3 separate regions of the Homo sapiens genome follow, and regions 2 and 3 are each linked to region 1. Evidence: fine-mapped expression QTL. A gene starts in region 1. Each other region holds a variant in brackets. All regions are shown on one strand. Distances are between the middles of the regions. Region 1 holds the start of RPL36 (ribosomal protein L36). Region 2 has its middle 16 kb from the start of TINCR. Region 3 overlaps SAFB (scaffold attachment factor B).

The links. PIP is the estimated chance that this variant, and not a neighbour inherited with it, causes the effect. A credible set is the group of variants that fine-mapping cannot tell apart.
Region 2: its variant is the best candidate, but not a certain one, in a credible set for the expression of RPL36 in fibroblasts (GTEx, PIP 0.71).
Region 3: its variant is the best candidate, but not a certain one, in a credible set for the expression of RPL36 in whole blood (INTERVAL, PIP 0.51).

What each region holds. Positions count from the first base shown.
Region 1 is chr19:5,685,600-5,692,941 of GRCh38, reverse strand. It overlaps RPL36 (ribosomal protein L36), which reads right to left and starts at 2,647. Exons shown (of 4, transcript NM_033643.3): 1 at 2,615-2,647; 2 at 2,342-2,436; 3 at 1,489-1,623; 4 at 1,067-1,410. The coding sequence starts at 2,434. The coding sequence ends at 1,321. It overlaps HSD11B1L (hydroxysteroid 11-beta dehydrogenase 1 like), which reads right to left. Exons shown (of 8, transcript NM_198706.3): 4 at 6,415-6,526; 5 at 5,951-6,042; 6 at 5,567-5,660; 7 at 5,274-5,439; 8 at 4,420-5,189. The coding sequence ends at 4,997. It overlaps LONP1 (lon peptidase 1, mitochondrial), which reads left to right. Exons shown (of 18, transcript NM_004793.4): 18 at 734-1,108. The coding sequence ends at 910. RefSeq lists enhancers at 946-995, 1,056-1,105, 1,293-1,818, 1,819-2,344, 2,345-2,870 and 2 more and silencers at 1,536-1,585, 5,404-5,463, 5,704-5,853, 5,924-6,183.
Region 2 is chr19:5,548,542-5,555,883 of GRCh38, reverse strand. No RefSeq gene overlaps it. Among named protein-coding and RNA genes, the nearest start is that of TINCR, 16 kb to the left of the region's middle. The variant A/T (reference allele first, on the strand shown) is at 3,112.
Region 3 is chr19:5,648,833-5,656,174 of GRCh38, reverse strand. SAFB (scaffold attachment factor B) reads right to left here. Exons shown (of 21, transcript NM_001201338.2): 7 at 6,676-7,186; 8 at 6,200-6,249; 9 at 5,103-5,197; 10 at 2,911-3,060; 11 at 2,755-2,837; 12 at 1,975-2,114; 13 at 1,719-1,807. Among named protein-coding and RNA genes, the nearest start is that of MICOS13, 28 kb to the left of the region's middle. RefSeq lists an enhancer at 6,502-7,342. The variant C/A (reference allele first, on the strand shown) is at 3,614.

The sequences.
Region 1 (7,342 bases):
TCCAAGGGTGCTGAGCAGGTTGGAGCGCCACTGTCCCCACTCTTCCCTCCCATCCCTGCCTGTCCCCAGACTGGACCACACTTGCCATGTGTCTAGGAAGCCTGGTGCAGTCAGTCAGGAGATGCCACCACGAGGGAGGCATGGTCAAGTGGCTGTGACCACCTTGAATTGGACACCAGGCACAGACTTCCTAGATGATAAAATGGTGGAGGCAAATTGGGAGGCTCACTGTCCATGGAGTCAGTGTGCGGTGACAGTGGGAACTGCTGTCCTTTCAAGGGGCTGTGGTGGGGCTGTGCCTGGCATCTACTCCAGATATGTGTAGCCTCCGGAGGTGAGGGGGGTGACGCAGGGCCTGGGGGCAGAGATGCAGATGCTCACAGGAACCCTGTTCAGGCCCCAGACACTGCCTGACCTCTGGATGTGAGGCCGTGGGTGTGTGGCTCATCCAGAGCCCTGAGACTGCTCCCACCGCACGGCCAGACTTCCTAGATAAGGGGGTGGGGAGGCCCTGGCTCCTGCTCTCAGGCTGTTGGAGCCAAGGCCAGTGGTTTTGCCTTGAGCCTGTTTCCCCGTGGGAGACGGGGACCCTGGTGGGTTTTGGGACTTACTGCTTAGAACCCGGCATCACTGTGTATCGCCGGTCCCCAGGAAGCCCTTTCGTTCCTGGAGGTTAGCACACCTGCTGCCCTCCCACAGGCCCAGGCAGGGCTGACCCTGACTCTGCCCCCAGGCCAAGCGCGCAGGGGTGACGTGCATCGTCCTGCCAGCCGAGAACAAGAAGGACTTCTACGACCTGGCAGCCTTCATCACCGAGGGCCTGGAGGTGCACTTCGTGGAACACTACCGGGAGATCTTCGACATCGCCTTCCCGGACGAGCAGGCAGAGGCGCTGGCCGTGGAACGGTGACGGCCACCCCGGGACTGCAGGCGGCGGATGTCAGGCCCTGTCTGGGCCAGAACTGAGCGCTGTGGGGAGCGCGCCCGGACCTGGCAGTGGAGCCACCGAGCGAGCAGCTCGGTCCAGTGACCCAGATCCCAGGGACCTCAGTCGGCTTAATCAGAGTGTGGCATAGAAGCTATTTAATGATTAAAGTCATTTGCAGTACGGCGGCTTCCTCACCTGCTGCCCCGGGAAGGGTGGGCGGGCCACGGCTTTTGATTCACGACCAGGCAGCACCCGGAGAGGGTGTGGCTCAGAGCGGGCACCAGACAGGGGACTGCGGGCCCCCGACACACCCACACCCACCCACGGACAGCAGGAGAGCCAGGGCTTCTGTCAAGCTGTTCTTTATTTCAGGGAGAGGGCAGGGGAGGGGCTCAGTCTTTCTTGGCAGCAGCTTTCCTCATGGCGGCCAGTACGTTGCTCAGCTCCTCCCGCTTCCTCTTGGCGCGGATGTGCGTCCCCACCTGCCAGGGACGAGGCCGCCGTCAGCCCGGCCCTGACTCCCATCCCACCCCGCCCCTCGGCCGGCAGCGCCCACCTACCCTTTTCTTGATAAATTTGAGGGCCCGTTTGTCCTTGGAGACCTTCAGTAACTCCATGGCGCGCCGCTCGTACGGGGCAAAGCCACACACCTCCCGAATCATGTCCCGCACGAACTTGGTGTGTTTGGTCAGACGCTAGGGGGGAAAGGGGCGGCCGTCAGGGTAGGGGGATCCCTGCATTCTAGTTAAGCAGCTTCTCTCGCGCTGCCGCGATTTCCCTGGCTACTTCCTCCCCTCTGTGGGTAGCTGTGAGAACCAAGGTATTAACGCCTAGCGCTTTTCGCCGCGCCCGGAGCAGCTCCCATCCTCCCTAAGTCCCAGTCTCCGCAACACTGGCAGGACGCACCTGGAGTCTGGGCTGCCTGCTGAATAAAGGCGCCCAATACACTGACACACCTGAAATCCCTCAACCTCACACACCGCAACCTCGGGCCAGCTCCATGAGCGAACTCCTTACTCCTGCGTCAGAACCCCAAACCCGCTGCCCGCTTAATAAAGGCGCCCAATACACTGACACACCTGAAATCCCTCAACCTCACACACCGCAACCTCGGGCCAGCTCCATGAGCGAACTCCTACTCCTGCGTCAGAACCCCAAACCCGCTGCCCCGCGCCGCTCTCAAGGTGCTCCCTCTGCCCCAGCGTGGATTGCACGGTTGGGAAAAACCCAGATGGGTGCCCGCCTTCGAGCACCAGGCAGGAAGTCCCACTCCCCCACCCCATCTCTTCCATTCAAGCCCCCCTTAGTTCTGCGCCCGAACGCGCGTTCTTTCAGGTCGAGAGCCTTTGCCCAAGCCATGCCCTCCGCCCTCCAAGAAACCCCCGACAACCTCCGCGCGGCACCCGCACTCACCCCGCGGCGTCGGCTGTGCCTGGGCTTGCTCACGTTCTTGGTCACTTTGTGGCCCTTGTTGAGGCCCACGGCCATAGGGTAGCGTAGGGCCATGGCTGCGGACAGCGACGGGGAGAAGGGGCGGAGGTGAGTACCGGCTCAGTTCCCGAGGCCCAGAGCCCCGCGTCCCGGCTCCTTCAGCCTCGCTCGCCACAACCAACCATCCTCCAACCTGCACAGAGGACCCGGGAGTCCGGATGGCGGCGGATACCGGCAGTGCGGGAAACCACTTACCTGCTGCTCTCCAGAGACGGCCGTGGCGGAAGGGCTGGCGCCGCGCGGAACTCCGGGATATCTACTCGGCTCAGGAGGCGCAGGCCAGAGAGGCAAGAACGGCACGCGCTCCCCCTGGCGGCTGGAGTCTTCCCCGCCGTTGCGCTGAGCATGCGCGACCGAGCTCCCTGAGCATGCGCGTTTACTCCTGCGAGCCCGGGAGCTGGAGTCGGAACCAGTGGAGGTGGCTATGGCTGCTCTCCTCCCTCTGCCTGTGAAATGAGTTCGAATCCCAACTCCGCCTATTTCGGGCCGACCCTGCATCGACGACATCACCTCTCAGAATTTCTTCACTTGTAGAGCGGGAATAATAATACCAAACTGTATGAACTGTTAAAACGCCCATTAGGCCGGGCGCGGTGGCTCACGCCTGTAATCTCAGCACTTTGGGAGGTCGAGGCATGTGGATCACGAGGTCAGGAGCTCGAGACCAGCCTAATACGGTGAAACCCCGTCTCTACTAAAAATACAAAAAATTAGCCAGGCGTGGTGGTGGGCACCTGTAGTCCCAGCTACTCGGGAGGCCGAGGCAGGAGAATGGCGTGAACCCAGGAGGCAGAGCTTGCAGTGAGCCGAGATCGTGCCACTGCACTCCAGCCTGGGCGACAGAGCAAGACTCCGTCTCAATAAATAAATAAATAAATAAATAAATAAATAAATAGCCAGGCGTGGTGGCATGCTCCTGTAATCCCAGCTACGCAGGAGGCTGAGGCAGGAGAATTGCTTGAGCCCAAGAGGCAGAGGTTGCAGTGAGCCGAGATCGCACCACTGCACTCCAGCCTGGGCGACAGAGCGAAACTCCATTTAAAAAAAAAGGTATTGGTTTTGTTATCAATTGGTCAAGCTCTAGACTAGGTCTGAATACAGCAACGTGTAATAGTGCCCCTTGCGGACATCTGATGTAATTTAGGTGGTGTAGGGACGGGACGCTAAATAACTGAATCGGGTGGCAGAAACACACAAGTTTCCAGTTTTTCTCCTTTAATGCTACTAATATACAAGAAGAGAGTCTCAATTTAGGGCTGCTCTAATTAGGGTTAGCGCTTTCATGTTTTTTCCAGACAGGGTCTTGCTCTGTCGCCCAGGCTAGAGTGCACTGCTGTAATCATAGCTTATTGTAGCCTTGACTTCCAGGGCTCAAGTGATCCTCCTGCCTTAGCCTCCTTAGCTGGGACCACAGGCACATGCCACCACGCCTGGCTAATTTTTTAATTAAAATATTTGTTTGTGGCCGGGTGCAGTGGCTGACACCTGTAATCCCAGCACTTTGAGAGGCCGAGACAGGGGGATCACCTAAGGCTAGGAGTTCGAGACCAGCCTGGCCGACATGGTAAAACCCCGTCTCTACTAAAAATACAAAAAGTCAGGCGTTGTGACCCACACCTGTAATCTGAACTATTTGGGAGGCTGAGGCACAAGAATCGCTTGAACCCCGGAGGCAGAGGTTGCAGTGAGCCTAGATCGCACCACTGCACTCCAGCCTGGGCGATAGAGTGAGACTCCGTCTAATAAATAAATAAATAAAGACAGGGTTTCACCATGTTGGCCAGGCTGGTCTCAAACTCCTGACCTCAAGTGATCTGCCCACCTTGACCTCTCAAAGTGCTGGGATTATAGGCGTGAGCCACTGCTCCTGGCCCTCTCAGCCTCCATTTCCCCACCTGTGAAATGGGATTGAGAGTCAAGGCCCCTGATACACACACCCCCTCCCGCTGCCCGCTGGCTGCTAGCAAATTGGAATTACCAAGGAATTTGAACAACAGATATGCAAGAGAAGAAGAGTTTTTATTCTCGAACAAGAGGCTGGGTCCAGCTCAGAACACACTCTTTCCCTCCTCCTCCCGCTCAGACCCTGCCACCAGGTAGACGAACAGTGTAGACGCCCCTGCAGGTGTGAAGAGTACCAGAGACCCCAGCTAGGGGAAGCTGGCAGGAGTTGGGGGGGTTCCTCCCAGATGGAATGAATGGAAAGAATAAATCAGGGACTTAAAGGCGCAGGCAGGAGATGGAGAGGGGTCCATGGGTGGCTCAAGGGTGGCGTGGCCTCTCTGAGCCTTAGTTTCCTCATCTGCAAAATGGAAGCAGTCACGTCATCAATCATGGCCAAACAGGTGAGGCCTTGCAAGTCCCCGACAAAGGCGCCTAACACGGGGCACCTGCACCTCCCAAGCCGTGACTGGTTCCAGGTGCCCGTCGTTTTTCTCGGTTTTGCTTTTCTGTCTTGATGACTTCATCTTGGGCTGTGGCCACCCTCTCAGGGGTGTCTCTGTGAGTGTTCTGGCTCCAGGGACAGTTGGAGGGAGGAACATTGCCGTCTGGGACTGGAGGGGCACCCCCCGGTGCTCAGGCTGCCGCGGCCGTGACGTTGAGCTCCTGGCGGATAAACCAGGCCCGCGGGCGCGGTAGCCAGCGCCGGAGCAAGCACAGCAGGCGGAAACGCCACGGGTAGAAGACGCCGGCCGCGCGCGTGGCGCCGCCGCGGATCACGGCCAGGGCTGCCTTGGGCCCCGGGGCCGCCTTGACCCTCGTGACTCCCCTGGGGACAGGAGGGCACGGTGGGGACTGCGGCTGGGGCTGGGCCATGGCCCCCAGCCCAGCCCCCAGCTTGTCCGGGCCTCACCTGACTGCCTCGGCGGCGGAGGCGCGATCTCGGAGGCCCAGGACGCACATGGTGATGGCCACGTTCACGTCCTGCACGTCCAGCTCCCGCCGCAGGGAGCCGAAGAAGCCGTCCAGCGCAAACTTGGCCGCCGAGTAGGGAGTGGAGAACGACGTGGGCACGCGGCCTGGGGGCGCGGACGGCAGCGGCTGAGTGGCTCCCCCTCGTCCGGGAAGCCTGCCCAGACCCTCCAGGCTCACCCGCATCGAGCTCCCCACTCCCCGTCCCGCAGAGCCGGGGCCGGGTGCACGCACCGAGCAGCGAGGACACCACCACCAGGGAGCCCTTGCTGTCCGTCAGGCTGGGCAGCGCCCGCGACGTCAGTTGCACGTAGCTCACAAAGTTTACCTGCAGGCGGCACTCGCGAGTCACCGGCAGAGGCGGAGCCCAGGGGCAGGGCGGGGCCAGAAACCCAGAGGGCGGGGCCAGGGCCGGGTCAGAGACGGGGCCAGAAACCCGGAAGGCGGGTCCGAGGGCGGGGTCAAGGCCGGAGCAGGGGCTTGGGCTAGGAGGGGCGTGGCTGGGGCGGGACGGGTGGAGAGCCCTCCCTGGAGAAGGCAGAACCCGGACCGCGAAGGGAACGGACCACCGGTCCCTGAGATAGAGGGGCGGGCCGGGGCCGCGGAGGAGCGGAGCACCTGCATGAGCCAGCGAGTTGCCTGGGGGCTGCGGGCTCGCGTGCCGGCCGGGGCGCCGCCGATGTGGTTCAGCACGAGGTAGTCCAGCCCGCCTGGCCCAGAAACGCCGGTCAGCCCCGGAGGCCCCTCCCCAAGGAAACGATCAAACCCCGCCCCCGAGCTTAGCTCCACCCAGAGCGCTGGTCCAGCGAGCTCCGCCCCAGGTAACTCCCACTACGATCAAAGACACCCAGCCTTGGCCTTACACCCTGGATCTAGCAAGGTTTGGTTCCCATTCAACGAGGCCCCGTTCAGAGCTCTTCCCCCAGACGCAATGAGACTCCACCCCGCCCACGCCCCCAGTCCCCATTTGTCTCCGCCCTGAGACACCTGTTACTGTGGCCACACCCACAGCCCAATTCTGGTCCTGTCCCTAAGGCCTAGGCCACGGTCCCGGACTCCAGGCTTCAGGCCCAGCCCCTCACCCAGCTTGTCCAGCGCAAACTGCACCACGCTCTCGGGCGCCTCAGGGGAGGCCATGTCCGCCGCGATGTAGAAGACCTTGGGGGCGCCCAGCTTCCGGCAGTTCCCTACCACCTGGGGGGGGCCAGAGCTGCCCGTGGGCCTCTCCTCTACAGCAGCGCTTCCCCCTCCACCGCACCTGCTGGCCATAGGGAGGCCCCCGCCTGAAAACCCCCCCCTACTCTGAGCCTCGGGACCCATTCAACATCATTCCCAAAAATTTACCACTGCTTGAGGGGCGCAAAGTGGAGGCCCGCGGGCCAGAATGCTGGCCAATTTGGTGGTTAGTCAATCACCAACATCTAAAACAGGACATTTCATCTACAATTTCCTGATTGCTAGCTTCTCTTGAAATATTGAAAGGTTTGTGCCCAAGAGCCATACCCTTCCTTGAAGTAGCAATGGACTGCTTGTTGCTAAGAAGTGCCCATCCTTCCCTTCGAGTTTAAGAACCCTGGCTATCAGCACAGGCCTGGACACTCAATACTCTCATTTGTTAAGAAACACTGCATCTTCTAGTCACCGTCTCACTGCATTGGCACAACATCCTAACCCATGAGAAGGTGGGTTTTTTTGTTTGTTTGTTTGAGACAGAGTCTCACTTTGTTGCCCAGGCTGGAGTGCAGTAGTGCGATCTCGGCTCACTGCAACCTCTGCCTCCGGGGTTCAAGTGATTCTCCTGACTCAGCCTCCCATGTAGCTGGGACTACATGCTCGCGCCACCATGCCCTAATTTTTTTTTTTCTTTTTTTTGAGATGGAGTATCGCTCTGTCACCCAGGCTGGAGTGCAGTGGCGCGATCTCAGCTCACTGCAACCTCCACCTCCCGGGTTCCAGCAATTCTCCCGCCTCAGCCTCCCCAGTAGCTGGGATTACAGGTGCCTGACACCA
Region 2 (7,342 bases), 140 kb after region 1:
GGTGTCTTCAGAAGCTGCTGGGATCATGCATTCCACAATCACTGATTAAGCACCTCCAGTTTGCAGGGCTCTGAGGACAGCGTGGTGACTAGGATACCCAGTCAAGCTCCCCACGGAGTTCACGGCCCAACAAAAGCCACAGAAGCTGCAGGGCAAGCGCATGGCCCCTGAGACTCCCCAGAAACCTCTCCCACACACAACCTTCCTCTGAATGACCTTGGGTGTTCTTTGTCCCTCGCTGGGCCTCAGTTTCCCTGCCTGCCCAAGAAGGGAAGTGTTTGGGATAGCCAGGCATTCGGTGTTTGCTGGCAGACAAATCCTGACTAACCCCCGTGCCCAAATGGATTTGAAAGAACCCTCAAAAAGGAAAACAGTCATAAGAAAGAAAAAAAAACCCGGCCAGGCGCAGTGGCTCACTCCTGTAATCCCAGCACTTTGGGAGGCTGAGGCGGGCAGATCACGAAGTCAAGAGATCGAGACTATTCTGGCCGACATGGTTAAACCCTGTCTCTACTAAAAATATAAAAATTAGCCAGGCGTGGTGGCAGGCGCCTGTAGTCCTAGCTACTTGGGAGGCTGAGGCAGAATTGCTTGAACCCGAGAGGCGGAGGTTGCAGTGAGCCAAGATCACGCCACCGCACTCCAGCCTGGCAACAGAGCGAGACTCCGTCTCAAAAACAAACAAACCAAAAAAAAAAAAAAAAAACAACACAGAGCCGACCACTGACCTTGCAGGGTGATGCACCTGGGGCAGAAGCAGCCTCACTACCACCCCTTGGAGCATCACGGAAACTTATCCATCTCTTTCCTTGGTGGCCCCTGGCTATCCACTGAAGGCTGCTGGCCTCACTATGAGGGCTCCAGGCCTGGCCCTGAGGTCCCCTGACTTGGCACTGACCTCACACTTGTGCTTTAAGCTTCAGACCTACTAAACCCCTTGCTGGGCTCCAGCCACAAGGTTTTTTTCACAGGCTATTTCTTTTCTTTTCTTTCTTTTTTTTCTTTTTTTGAGACAGAGTCTAGCTCTGTTGCCCAGGCTGGAGTGCAATGGCGCTATCTTAGCTCACTGCAACCTCCACCTCCTGGGTTCAAGCGAACCAGGAGGTGAGAATCCTGTCTCAGCCTCCTGAGTAGCTGGGACTACAGGCACACATCGCCATGCCCTGCTAATTTTTGTATTTTTAGTAGAGACGGGGTTTCACCATGTTGGCCAGGCTGGTCTTCAACTCCTGACCTCAGGTGATCCGCCCGCCTTGGCCTCCCAAAGTGCTGTGAGCCACCGCACCCAGCCTGCATGGGCTATTTCTGTATATGAAATACCCTCTCCCAACCTTTCACCTTTCACCCTGTGATTTGCAGGTTCAATGTCACTTCCTTGGGGAGGCCCCCAAAACAAGTTATGTTCCTGTTGTTTTGTATTCTCACAACATCTTGTTCTTTTCCTTTGTAGCATTAATTATTTATATTATTATTCATTCAATGTATGTTTTCCCCACTAGCCTGTGGGCACCATGAAGACGGGGAAGAGGTCTGGTTTGGTCACTGCTGCAGTACACAGCGTTTAATAACCCAGCGCCAGGGAGCGGTGGGGAGCCAGGAACACCTTTGCTCCCTTCCCAGGCTCAATGAGGCCCCCTCTCCACCATAGTTCCTGCCACCACTGGGCCTTGGTCCAGGTGACCAAGGGGCACGGAGGTTTGGGATTGGGATTCCAGGCACTCTGGCTCCTGCCGCCGTGATAAATGGGGAGAATTCAGAATTAATTATCGACTGCTCTGCTGAGCCGGCCTGATCTGGGCAGATAAAGAGCGTGGGCGCCACTGCATCTGCCCAGCGCTTCTCAGAAGTTTATTAGAGGATGGGAGGCAGTTGGCTGATGGGAGGAGTCTGGAATGCATTAGAGCCAGAGCTGCTGGGGGCAAGGCTGTGGCTCTGCTGGGCCACTTGGGGCAACACGCTCTTCCTCTCTGAGCCTTGGTTTTCTCATTTGGAAAAAGGGAAGTAAAAAAGAAAATCCTACCCCAGCAGTTTGGGATGCCAAGGTGGGCGGATCACCTGAGGTCATGAGCTCGAGACCAGCCTGGACAACATGGCGAAACCCTGTCTCTACTAAAAATACAAAAATTAGCTGGGTGTGATGGCGGATGCCTGTGATCCCAGGTACTTGGGAGGCTGAGGCACTAGAATCCCTTGAACCCGGGAGGCGGAAGTTGCTGTGAGCCGAGATTGCACCACTGACCTCTCTGAGCCTTGGTTTTCTCATTTGGAAAAAGGCAAGTAAAAAAAAAAAAAAACAGCCGGGCGCGGTGGCTCACGCCTGTAATCCCAGCACTTTGGGAGGCCAAGGCAGGCGGATCATGAGGTCAGGAGATTGAGACCATTATGGCTAACACGGTGAAACCCATCTCTACTAAAAATACAAAAAAATTAGCCGGGCGTGGCAGCGGGCGCCTGTAGTCCCAGCTACTCCGGAGGCTGAGGCAGGAGAATGGCGTGAACCCGGGAGGCGGAGCTTGCAGTGAGCCGAGATCGCGCCGCTGTACTCCAGCCTGGGCGACAGAGCGAGACTCCGTCTCAAACAAAAAAAAAAAAAGAAAAGAAAAATCCTTATATGTTGAGATAAGTTTTTTGGGGAATCACCAAGAGCAAAGAAAGCAAAGTACACAGTAGGTTTCATGCGTGTCCATGTGAAGAGACCACCAAACAGGCTTTGTGTGAGCAGCATGGCTGTTTATTTCACCTGGGTGCAGGCCGGCTGAGTCCGAAAAGAGAGTCAGCGAAGGGAGATAGGGGTGGGGCCGTTTTATAGGATTTGGGAAGGTAATGGAAAATTACAGTCAAAGGGGGTTGTTCTCTGGTGGGCAGGGGTGGATCTCACAAAGTACATTCTCAAGAGTGGGGAGAATTACAAAGAACCTTCTTAAGGGTGGGGGAGACTACAAAGTACATTGATCAGTTAGGGTGGGGCAGGAACAAATCACAATGGTGGAATATCACCAGTTAAGGCTGTTTTTACTTCTTTTGTGGATCTGCAGTTACTTCAGGCCATCTGGATGTATACGTGCAAGTCACAGGGGATGCGATGACCTGGCCTGGGCTCAGAGGCCTGAC[A/T]TTCCTGCCTTCTTATATTAATAAGACAAATAAAACAAAATAGTGTTGAAGTGTTGCAGCGGCGAAAATTTTTGGGGGGTGGTATGGAGAGAGAACGGGCGATGTTTCTCAGGGCTGCTTCGAGCGGGATTAGGGGCGGCGTGGGAACCTAGAGTGGGAGAGATTAAGCTGAAGGGAGGTCTTGTGGTAAGGGGTGATATTGTGGGGATGTTAGAAGAAACATTTGTCGTATAGAATGATTGGTGATGGCCTGGATACGGTTTTCAATGAACTGAGAAGCTAAACGGAAGATAGAAGGTCTGAAGAAAAGGAGGAGAAAAATGGGTATTAAAGGACTAAGAATTGGGAGGGCCCAGGACATCCAATTAGAGAGTGCCCAAGGGGGTTCAGCGTAATTACTTTCTTGGTTGGCAAGTTTTTGGGCTCTATCCTTGAGTTTTTTTATGTTGTCATACACCAGGCCAGATTGATTTAGGTAAAAACAACACTCCTCATTTAAGAATATGCAGAGTCCTCCTTTTTCAGCAGTAAGTCAGTCAAGGCCTCGGTGGTTTTGGAGGACAACTGCAGCTAAAGAGTCAACTTGGGCCTGGAGGACTGATAAAGTTTGTGATTTTGAGGGCCTCTAAAAGTATTAAAGCAGCAGCAGCCGCTGCACGCAGACATGAGGGCTAGGTTAAAACAGTAAGGTCAAGTTGTTTGGACAGAAAGGCTACAGGGTGTGGTCCTGGCTCTTGTGTAAGAATTCCGACCACGCTAACCATGCCTAGGAAGGAAAGGAGTTGTTGTTTTGTAGGTGCTGGGGTTTGAGAGGTCAGTCGGACACGATTGGCAGGGAAAGCACGTGTGTTTTTGAGAATTATGCCGAGATAGGTAACAGATGAGGAAGAAATTTGTGCTTGATTGAAGTAATGGGGGCTGTCTGTGAAGCTTTGCAGCAGTACAGCCTTGGTAATTTGCTGAGCCTAATGGGTGTCAGGGTCAGTCTAAGTGAAAGCAAAGAGAGGCTGGGACGAGGGGTGCAGGGGAACAGTGAAAAAAGCATCTTTAAGATGGAGAACAGAATAGTGAGTTGTGGAGGAACGGATTGAGGACAAAAGAGGGTACGGGTTGGGCACCACAGGGTGGATGGCAAAACAATTTGGTTGATAAGACGCAGATCCTGAACTAATCTGTAAGACTTATCCGGTTTTCGGACAGGTAAAATGGGGGAATTGTAAGGAGAGTTTATAGGTTTTAGAAGCCCATGCTATAGCAGGCGAGTGATAACAGGCTTTAATCCTTTTAAAGCATGCTGTGGGATGGGATATTGGCGTTGAGCGGGGTAAGGGTGATTAGGTTTTAATGGGATGGTAATGGGCATGTGATCAGTTGCCAGGGAAGGAGTAGAGATGTCCCATACTTGTGGCTTAAGGTGGGGGGATACGAGAGGAAGACGTGAAGGAAGCTTTGGGCTGGGGAGAAGGGCGGCAATGAGATGCGGCTGTAGTCCAGGAATAGTCAGGGAAGCAGATAATTTGGTTAAAGTATCTCGGCCTAATAAGGGAACTGGGCAGGTGGGGATAACTAAAAAAGAGTGCATAAAAGAGTGTTGTCTAAGTTGGCACCAGAGTGGGGGAGTTTTCAGGGGTTTTGAAGCCTGGCCGTCAATACCCACAACAGTTATGGAGGCAAGGGAAACAGGCCCTTGAAAAGAAGATAATGTGGAGTGGGTAGCCTCCGTATTGATTAAGAAGGGGACGGACTTACCTTCCACTGTGAGAGTTACCCGAAGCTCGGCGTCCGTGATGGTCTACGGGGCTTCCGAGGCGATCGGGCAGCGTCAGTCTTCAGCCGCTAAGCCGAGAAGATCTGGGAAGGAGTCAGTCAGAGAGCCTTGGGCCAGAGTTCCAGGGGCTCTGGGAGTGGCTGCCAGGTGAGTTGAACAGTCCGATTTTCAGTGGGGTCCCACACAGATGGGACGCGGCTTAGGAGGAATCCCGGGCAGCGGGCATTCCTTGGCCCAGTGGCCAGATTTCCGGCACGTGTAGCAAGCTCCTGGGGGAGGAGGTTCTGGAGGAACGCCTGGCCGCTGCGGTTCAGGCATTTGGAAGTTCTTGTGTGCTGGAGATGTGGCTGGGGTTTGTCTCACAGTGGAGGCAAGGAATTGCAACTTTTTTCTATTATTGTACACCTTGAAGGCGAGGTTCATTAAGTCCTGTTGTGGGGTTTGAGGGCCGGAATTTAATTTTTGGAGTTTTATTTAATGTCGGGAGCAGATTGGGTAATAAAATATATTTTGAGAATAAGACGGCCTTTTGACTTTTTAGGGTCTAGGGCTGTAAAGTGTCTCAGGGTTACTGCCAAACAAGTCATGAACTGGGCTGGGTTTTTATATTTGATGAAAAAGAGCCTAAACGCTTCTGATTTGGGATAAAGAAAAAGGAGCATTAACCTCGACTATGCCTTTGGCTCCAGCCACCTTTTTAAGAGTAAATTGCTGGGCAGGAGGGGGAGGGCTAGTCACGGAACGAAACTGTAAGCCGGACCAGGTGTGAGGAGGGGAGGCGATAAAAAAATGACAGGATGCAGGAGCAGAGGCTGAGGAAGAATTGGGACTTAGCTTGGGCTGGCGAGGAGGGGAGAGGTCAGATGGGTCTGTAGAAAAGGAAGATGAGAAAGACTCAGCGACGCTTGGGGTTGGGACTGAGGGGACAGGTGGGAGGGAAAGAAGGAAGATTTGGGACGAGTTGCACTGGGCACAGAGAGTAGGAAGGGACTGATGGACTTCAGGCACCTCAGACCATTTGCCCATTTTACGACAAGAATTATTTAGATCTTGTAGGATGGAAAAATTGAAAGTGCCGTTTTCCGGCTATTTGGAACTACTGTCGAGCTTGTATTGGAGTCAAGCGGCATTGCAGAAGAAAATAAGGCATTTAGGTTTTAGGTCAGGTGTGAGTTGAAGAGGTTTTAAGTTTTTGAGAACACAGGCTAAAGGAGAAGGAGGAGGAATGGAAGGTGGAAGCTTACCCATAGTGAAGGAGGCAAGCCCAGAAAAAAGAGTAGAGACACGGAGAAGGGGTGGGGGGTTCTCGCCCTCCAGAAAAGCAGAGAAGGGGTTGGGGCACGGAAGTAAGGGATTGGGGCACAAAGAGGTCAGGGTGTGGAAATAAGGGATTGGGGTGCAGAGATATAAGAGGTTGGGGTGCGGAAATAAGCGATTGGGGGTTTCTTGCCCCCTAGGAAAGCGGGACTTGCCACTGAGGGTGAAGGAGAAGGGGTTGAGGGGTACTTGCCCCTGCCCCAGGAAAGCGGGACTTGCCACTAAGGGTGAAGGACCAAGGCGGGCGTCCCTGCGTGGTCTGACACCCTTGAAACGTGAGTGTATAATCAGAGAGGCGTCCCTGCAATGATTAAACACCAAGGGAAGGCTGCCTTCCCAGTCCGTGACCGGCGCCGGAGTTTTGGGTTCACGGATAAAACATGTCTCTTTTGTCTCTACCAGAAAATGAAAGGAATTGAAATTAAGAGAAGGGAGAGATTGAAATGTGGCGCCAAGATTGAAAGGAGAAAGAGGTTGAGGGATAGTGAGGGAGGTTGGAGAAGAGAGTAAAAAGAGGCCGCTTACCGGATTTGAAATTGGTGGGATGTTTCCTGGGCTGGTTGGACTGAGGACCTGAGGTGGTAGGTGGATCTTTCTCACGGAGCAAAGAGCAGGAGGACAGGGGATTGACCTCCCAAGGGAGGTCCCCCGATCCGAGTCACGGCACCAAATTTCATGCGCGTCTGTGTGAAGAGACCACCAAACAGGCTTTGTGTGAGAAGCATGGCTGTTTATTTCACCTGGGTGCAGGCCGGCTGAGTCCGAAAAGAGAGTCAGCGAAGGGAGATACGGGTGGGGCCGTTTTATAGGATTTGGGAAGGTAATGGAAAATTACAGTCAAAGGGGGTTGCTCTCTGGTGGGCAGGGGTGGATCTCACAAAGTACATTCTCAAGGGTGGGGAGAATTACAAAGAACCTTCTTAAGGGTGGGGGAGACTACAAAGTACATTGATCAGTTAGGGTGGGGCAGGAACAAATCACAATGGTGGAATGTCATCAGTTAAGGCTGTTTTTACTTCTTTTGTGGATCTTCAGTTACTTCAGGCCATCTGGATGTATACGTGCCAGTCACAGGGGATGCGATGGCCTGGCCTGGGCTCAGAGGCCTGACAGTAGGTATCTAATAAATGCTGTAGCTCACGCCTT
Region 3 (7,342 bases), 37 kb after region 1:
GATGTGGAGGTCCTATGTGATGAATAACTTTTAGTGAAAAACAGATGAGCTGTTTAATCCAAACAAGCCTTACATTTTGCTTATCATAATTGAAAGACACAGAATTTCATCAACATTTAATGCTAAAATATGATCTAACAGTACATTTAATAGAGAAAAAATGGAAATGAGTATTGCCCCCGAAAACTTCATATAAGATCAAAACACCAATTTTTTATGTCTTTTGCTTCAAAAATAAATTTCTTAATTTTCCTTTTTCCTTCAATAATTAAACACACAATGAGTTCCCAAATGAAGCACTTCCGGTACACTTGACAAGTACCTTATTTGTGCCAATGACATTGTTAAGAGACCTTCTCATTTTATCCCTAGAACCCACACTTTCCTTTTTCCGTTTTCCAAAGGTGTTTTATAGAACAAGGGTAAAAGGCTATGACATATTATAATACTGGCACACAGAGACTGAAAGCTCCTAAGCAATCCGCTCCATTCACCAAGTGAAATGGTTCCTCCTCCGTGCAGCTGAGGGTTGACCAGGCGGGTCCAAGGTCCCTCTCCTTCCTTAAGGAGGGGCTGCTGCCAAGATTGGTCCTTGGCTGGCAACTGGGAAGTTGGCTCTCAGAGTGTCCCCAGTTGACAGTTAACCAGTAAGGGTGGCTCGGTGTGCACAGACCATGCAAATAATAGGTGTGTGTTTTTTTTTTTTTTTTTTTTTGAGATGGGGTCTCACTCTCTCTCCCAGGCTAGAGTGCAGTGCAATGAACGTGGCTCACTACAGTCTTGACCTCCCAGGTTTAAGTGGCATTCTCCCACCTCAGCCTTTTGAGTAGCTGGGACCACAGATGCATACCACCGAGCCTGCCTAATTTTTAAATTTCTTGTGAAGATGGGGTCTTACTATGTTGCCCAAGGTGGTATCCATCTCCTGGGCTCAAGTATCCTCCCAGCTCAGCATACCAAACTGCTGGGATTACAGGCATGAGCCACCATGCTCAGCTCACACTGCAGCCCAGCAAGAAGATAAGAGTACAGGAAGGGGTCAAGGTGGAGAGCAGGCTAGAGGGAGGCTGGCGAGATGGGCCAGGTCACCATGGCATGCTCCACACTGCTGGGTGTAGGAATGCATCACGGGGAGGTGCTGACACTTTCAGGGTAGACAGGGAACGTGGACTGCCACACACCGACTCAGGGAAAAGCCAACAGTCCCATATGTAAATTTTAAAGTTAGCTTTAGAAAATAAGTTAACAGTTATCAGAGCAAAAGTAAGGATAAAGGAAAGCTTTCTGCATTTCTTAAAATAATTTGAGGCTGGGCGCAGTGGCTCATGCCTGTAATCCCAGCACTTTTGGGAGGCCGAGGCGGGCGGATCACCTGAGGTGAGGAGTTCGAGGCCAGCCTGGCCAACATGGTGAAACCTTGTTTCTACTAAAAAGATAATGGTGTGCGCCTGTAATCCCAGCTACTCGGGAGGCTGAGGCAGGAGAATCGCTTGAGCCTGGGAGGCGGAGGTTGGAGTGAGCCAAGATCGCACCACTGCACTCTAGTCTGGGCAACAGAGTGAGAACCTGTCTCAAAAAAAATAGTTTGAGATTTCTACATTTTCGAAACGGCCGACAAAAGCTTTTTTCAAATGAAGCTTAGTAATTCCCTAAGACGCACACAGAAATACAAACTGAAAAGAAGAGCAAAATACCCTAGTTAGAAAATTAATACTCACTCTCTCTTTGGACCCGGACGTTTTTACACTAATCACAGGCACCCCTTTGGATTTATCCATTACTACAGTCCGTTCGGTCCCTCGACTTCCTACAGAAAAGACGGGGAAAGTGTAAGTGGAAAACCAAGAATACCCAGATGAGAAAAACCCTCTGCAACATGAATCCAGTTTCCGTTGCCAGCTAATCACAGCAAACTAACAAACTCCACTAGGCACAGAAACAAGACAGAATCTCCTGGGCTCATGAGCTGCCCACCTGACTTTGTGGCTCGAGATCGCTCTGAGGGGCCAGGTTTCTGATCATCTTGGTCCTTACTCTTTTCTCCACTTCCGTCGTCACCCTTCTTAGCATCATCTTTTCTGTCACATTTATCATCCCTCTTAAGGTTTGTAGATCTATAAAAAACAGACATGTTGGCTGGGCGTGGTGGCTCATGCCTGTATTCCCAGCACTTTGGGGGGATGAGGCGGGCGGATCACATGAGACCGGGAGTTCGAGACCAGCCTGGCCAACATGGTGAAACCCCATCTCTACTAAAACCACAAATGGGCATGGCTATAATCCAAGCAAATCGGGAGGCTGAGGCATGAGAATTGGTTGAGCCAGGGAGGTGGAGGTTCAATGAAAAGAGATCTTGCCACTGCACACCAGCCTGGGCAACAGAGTGAGATTCTGTTTAAAACACCCTGCCCCGGCCAGGCATGGTGGCTCACGCCTGTAATCCGAGCACTTTGGGAGGCCGAGGCAGGCGGATCACAAGGTCAGGAGTTCAAGACCAGCCTGGCCAATATGGTGAAACCCCATCTCTACTGAAAATACAAAAATTAGCCGGGTGTGGTGGTGCACACCTTAGTCCCAGATACTCAGGAGGCTGAGGCAGGAGAATTGCTTGAACCCAGGAGGTGGAGTTGAGGTGAGCCGAGATCACACCACTGCACTCCAGTCTGGGCGACAGAGCGCGACTCCATCTCAAAAACAAAACAACAACAACAAAAAACACCCTGCCCCTTTAATTTAGCCAGGAAGGAGGGGTACCTGTCACTGTTGCTCGACTTCTCCTTTTTCCCGTCACTGTCTCTTTTGTCAGAGGTTTTCTTTCCCACAGGTTCATTTTTGGCCTGAAAAAGAGAATCAAGTATTACCCCCATTTCCTAATGTGGGCTATATCCTGGGAAGAAAACGGCCACTCACTTTCTCCACGGAGATCATCTTTCCGTGGAGCTCCGTCTTGTGCAGGTGGTTAATGCATTTTGTGGCCTCTTCTGCTGTGGACATCGTGACAAAACCGTAACAGCGAGCTCCAGGACTCCGGGCATTTGTCACAACCTTGGCGCCCACCACCTCAAAGGAAAGCAGGCAAATATGACTCAGACATGAAGCCCACTGAGCGGGGCATGGGGATATGAACACCCCACAGGGAAGTCTGCTCATCAGGGGTCCGACAAGTGTTAGACTGGGGAGGACAATGCTACTAATGCTTCTGTTTCGCTGTTGTTCCTCCAAGGACCTCTGGCCAGTTCTAATCGCTCATCTAGTTCCTCAAGGGGGCCAGGAGGGCAATGTAGGGGAACAGACGAAAGGGAAATCAAACAGGGTTCTGCCAGTGTTCCTTTAATATGGTCTAAAACTTGTGAAGAAATGATTCCAAATATACAGTCATGCTACGTAGGTGGTAAATTATGAAGTGATGTAATGTGGGCAAAAAAAGAAAAAAGAAAAAAAAAAGACTTCGGCACAGACTGATGCAAGGAAAGGTCTGTGAGCCGTGCTCTGGAACTCAGATCTGCCCTATCATTGACTGTAACAAAACGCAGTGATGTGTTTCAGTTACTGTAGACACATCCTTTCCAGTCTACCTGGTTTTCTCGACTCCAGCAGGATGCAGTTAGGGTCG[C/A]CCTTTGACGGCAGAAGACACCATGGCTCAGGAAAAGCCCTGCAGCAGCCAGTGGCCGAGGCTGGTAATCATGCTCATCATGCCACATGGAATCCTAGTCCCAGAGGACATTCTCAGAGAGGCCCGGTCCTCTAATTAACCCACATCAGGCCTGCTGCGCTCAAGACACTACAGTCTCCAGGGCAACACTTCCCCACTGAGCACACCCACCCGCTGGGGGACGCCATGGAGTCAGGAAAGGGGGTCTAGTAGGGGAGACTTGGCGCAGGTGTTGCCAGCCACACACCTTGTATCACTGAGGCTCAAGAAGCCCTTAGTTATGTCCGTAATAATGACATAATTAGTTTTATCCTTTTTTTTTTTCTTTTTTTAAGATGGAGTCTTGCTCTGTCCCAGGCTGGAGTGCAGTGGCACGGTCTCGGGTCACTGCAACCTCCACCTCCTGGGTTCAAGTTGTTATCCTGCCTTAGCGTCCCAAGTACCTGGGATTACAGGCATGCGCCACCACGCCCGGCTAATTTCTGTACTTTTAGCAGAGACAGGCTTCACCATACTGGCCAAGCTGGTCTCAAACTCCTGACCTCGTGATCCACCCACCTCGGCCTCCCAAAGTGCTGGAATTACAGGCGTGAGCCACCACACCCAGCCTGTTTTATCCTCTTTTAAGTTCTTCGAAGTCAGTATCAGGGAAAACACTTGGTTTTCTATATTGCAATGTGTTGAACCCTCACTGTGTAACACAAAGGATTGGACTCCTTCCTTTGGTAGTCCCCGAAACCGACTCTGAGAGAGACGAGGAGCCCTGAATGCAGGAGGCTGTTTGGGAGGCAAGTCTGGGAAACACCAGGGAGGAAGGGAGTGAGAAAGCACAGGGAGGAGGGCCAGGCGGCTGCGCTGGGCACTGCAGGTAGGGGGCTGGTGCCACCAGCCCCACCTTCACGGGCTCAGGAAAGGCAGGTGCTGCAGACAAGAGGCCACTAGAACTGCCCCCAGTGGTGAACTGAGGCAGCAACTTTGAGAGCCCCCAGCTGCTGAGGTGAGGTTCAGTCAATGGACCCAAGACACCCGTGGTGAGGACCCCTATCATCAGACTCCAGGGTCCCTGTTCTGAGTTCTGAGTTCCAGCATCACGAACACTGTTCTAAGAACACTGCTGTCTCCCAGACATGCTGACCAGCACCCCACCAGCCAACCCTGGCAGCCCAGCCTGAGTGCGACGTCCTGAGGACACAGAAATGGATCCACGAGCCATCACAGGGAAGGGGGCAAGCTCGCAGAGAAGGGAGGGAAATACAGTGGTGATGTGGGCTCTGGAAGCTTCCACACCACTCTCACCTCTACCTGTGGACGGGCAGACCCTCCCCAGCCATTAGCAAGTGTAAGCTCCTTGGTATCTCTCAAAGAACTCACTGAGGGGAGAGGACCTCCATGTAAAGGCCACACAACGCTGGTTTCAAAGTATCTTCTCCAGAAAAGCTCTGGCACTTACCTTCCCATATTTGCTGAAAAGATTCTTCAAATCTGTAGCTCTGGTTGTAGAAGAGAGTCCACTAACCCAGAAATTTCTACCACAACTGCTGCGACCTATTTCAAAAGAAAATTCTAGTAAAAACCCAAATACCCACAAGATCTTGAGTCTTAGAGACAACCTTTCCAAAAGAGACATGGTTCCCATTTTTCCTGAGGCAGTGGCAGCACTAAAAGCCAAATGGGGCTGTGGGCCTGACCACTATCCTCACCAAGAGCCTCCAGTGCAACACCAGGCCCAGCAGCACTACCACAGGGCCCGTCACAATACTGAGTGGGGCTATTGGGACAATGTGAGGTTTCCTAAGAAAGTTAGCAATTGCGGGCCGGGTGTGGTGGCTCACGCCTGTAATCCCAGCACTTTGGGAGGCTGAGGTGGGCGAATCACGAGGTCAAGAGTTCGAGACCAGCCTGGCCAACATGGTGAAACCCCATGTCTACTAAAAATACAAAAAATCAGCTGGGTGTGGTGGCGGGCGCTTATAATCCCAGCTACTCAGGAGGCTGAGGCAGGAGAATCTCTAGAACCCGGGAGTCAGAGGTTGCAGTGAGCTGAGATCGCGCCACTGCACTCCAGCCTGGGCAACAGAACAAGACTCTGTCTCAAAAAAAGTTAGCGATCGCTTAATTACAGGAGGAAGTGCAGTGTGCAACGGCCATGTAGCAGAACAGTCAACCTTGGTGTCAACAATGCACTGTTTCTCTTTCCACGTATAGCTCTGTATCTATCCCATGTTTTTACTCCTTTAGAACACTGATTAAGAAGGAATTTGGTAGGGTAAAATTATTTCTCAGTTAATGCATTTAATGAAGGGTTACAGGATGAATGTGCTCCCAACACAAGGATCTGCACCAAATCAGCCTGTTAACTCTTAGGACCTGGTATGCTTCCTACAACCCAGAACCTGTAGCGGTAACAGCAGAGAAGGAGAAAGACTGCACAAACGTCTCAGGAGTCTCCTGGGTAAGGAGCATAGCACGCGATGAACCAGAATCAAATACCCGCCACTGCCCAGGCCATACATGCTCCAAGGGACTGGTGTCGCCGAGGTGACCTACCCTTTTCCTCTTTGGAAAGCCTTTTTGTATCCGAGTCATCTTCGGGAGAACTAGAGACAAAAGACAATGTCACTCCACAAGGAAGCAGCATGGAGGAAACAAACTCAAAACCATAAAATTCGTGCTGAGGTTGCATACCTACCCGAAATTTAGTTCTGAAAAAATGATACCCCGACAAACTTGTATTGAAAATCTGACCTAACCATAAGATTTCAGACCCACAGGAGTTAATTAATTCTGCTGGGCTAAAGGTAATTAGGAAGAATTTAAGAACACAACCATGGTAGGTTGAGAAAAAGAAAAGGAATTGAATCACCCATTAAAAACACACAAAGAGAAACGAAACATTCTTTAGAAGCAAAACTACAATTTCGTCAGTCTGGCTGGCCAATTGCAGAAAAAAACAGCTTATGTGTGTCATTACATGACCAATGAAAAGGAGATAGCGTCTGGTCTAAAACTGAGAAAAAACAAACCTCATTTTCTGATCAGCGCCCTCACTGGTTGAGGACTCTTTAGGAGCCGGAGGGACTTCATTACAAGCGTCAAAATCAAACTTCCTCCCGTCTTCTTTGCTATCTCTGGCTTCTGGGCTTGGGGCTTCCGTGGGTGCTTCTGCGAGCTCCTCGCTAGAGGCCTCCGCGAGCTCGGAGGCCGCACTACTCTGCTCAACTGCCGGCTCTAGCCCTACAGGCTCACAGTCCGTCCTCTCGCCATCGCCTGGCTGCTCCGCGGGCTCCCTTTTCACTACCGCTAACAGGCTGTCTGCCTTGCTCGACTGAGCGTGTGCTGTTGACTCGCTGGCCAAATCTAAATCACCCTCTTCCGGATGGGCGCTGTCAAATAGGTCCTCTTCCTCCGCAAGCTTTCTGTCTGGCCCCACGCTACTTGTGTCCTGTGCAAATGGCTGCTCCAGCTCGGAACTTTCTTCTTTTACTGGCTCAGATTTACAAGTTTCCCCCAAAATGTCGAGTATTTTCTCATTTTCTACGGATTTAACAGGAATAGAATGGCACAAGGTTTAATTACCAGGGAAATAAAGCAATCACAAATGTGGAACTGGCACGGCTGCCACACTAACACGAAGAGAACTGCTAGCTACACAGAGATTGGAAAACCCGCGGGTACACAAAGTTATACTGG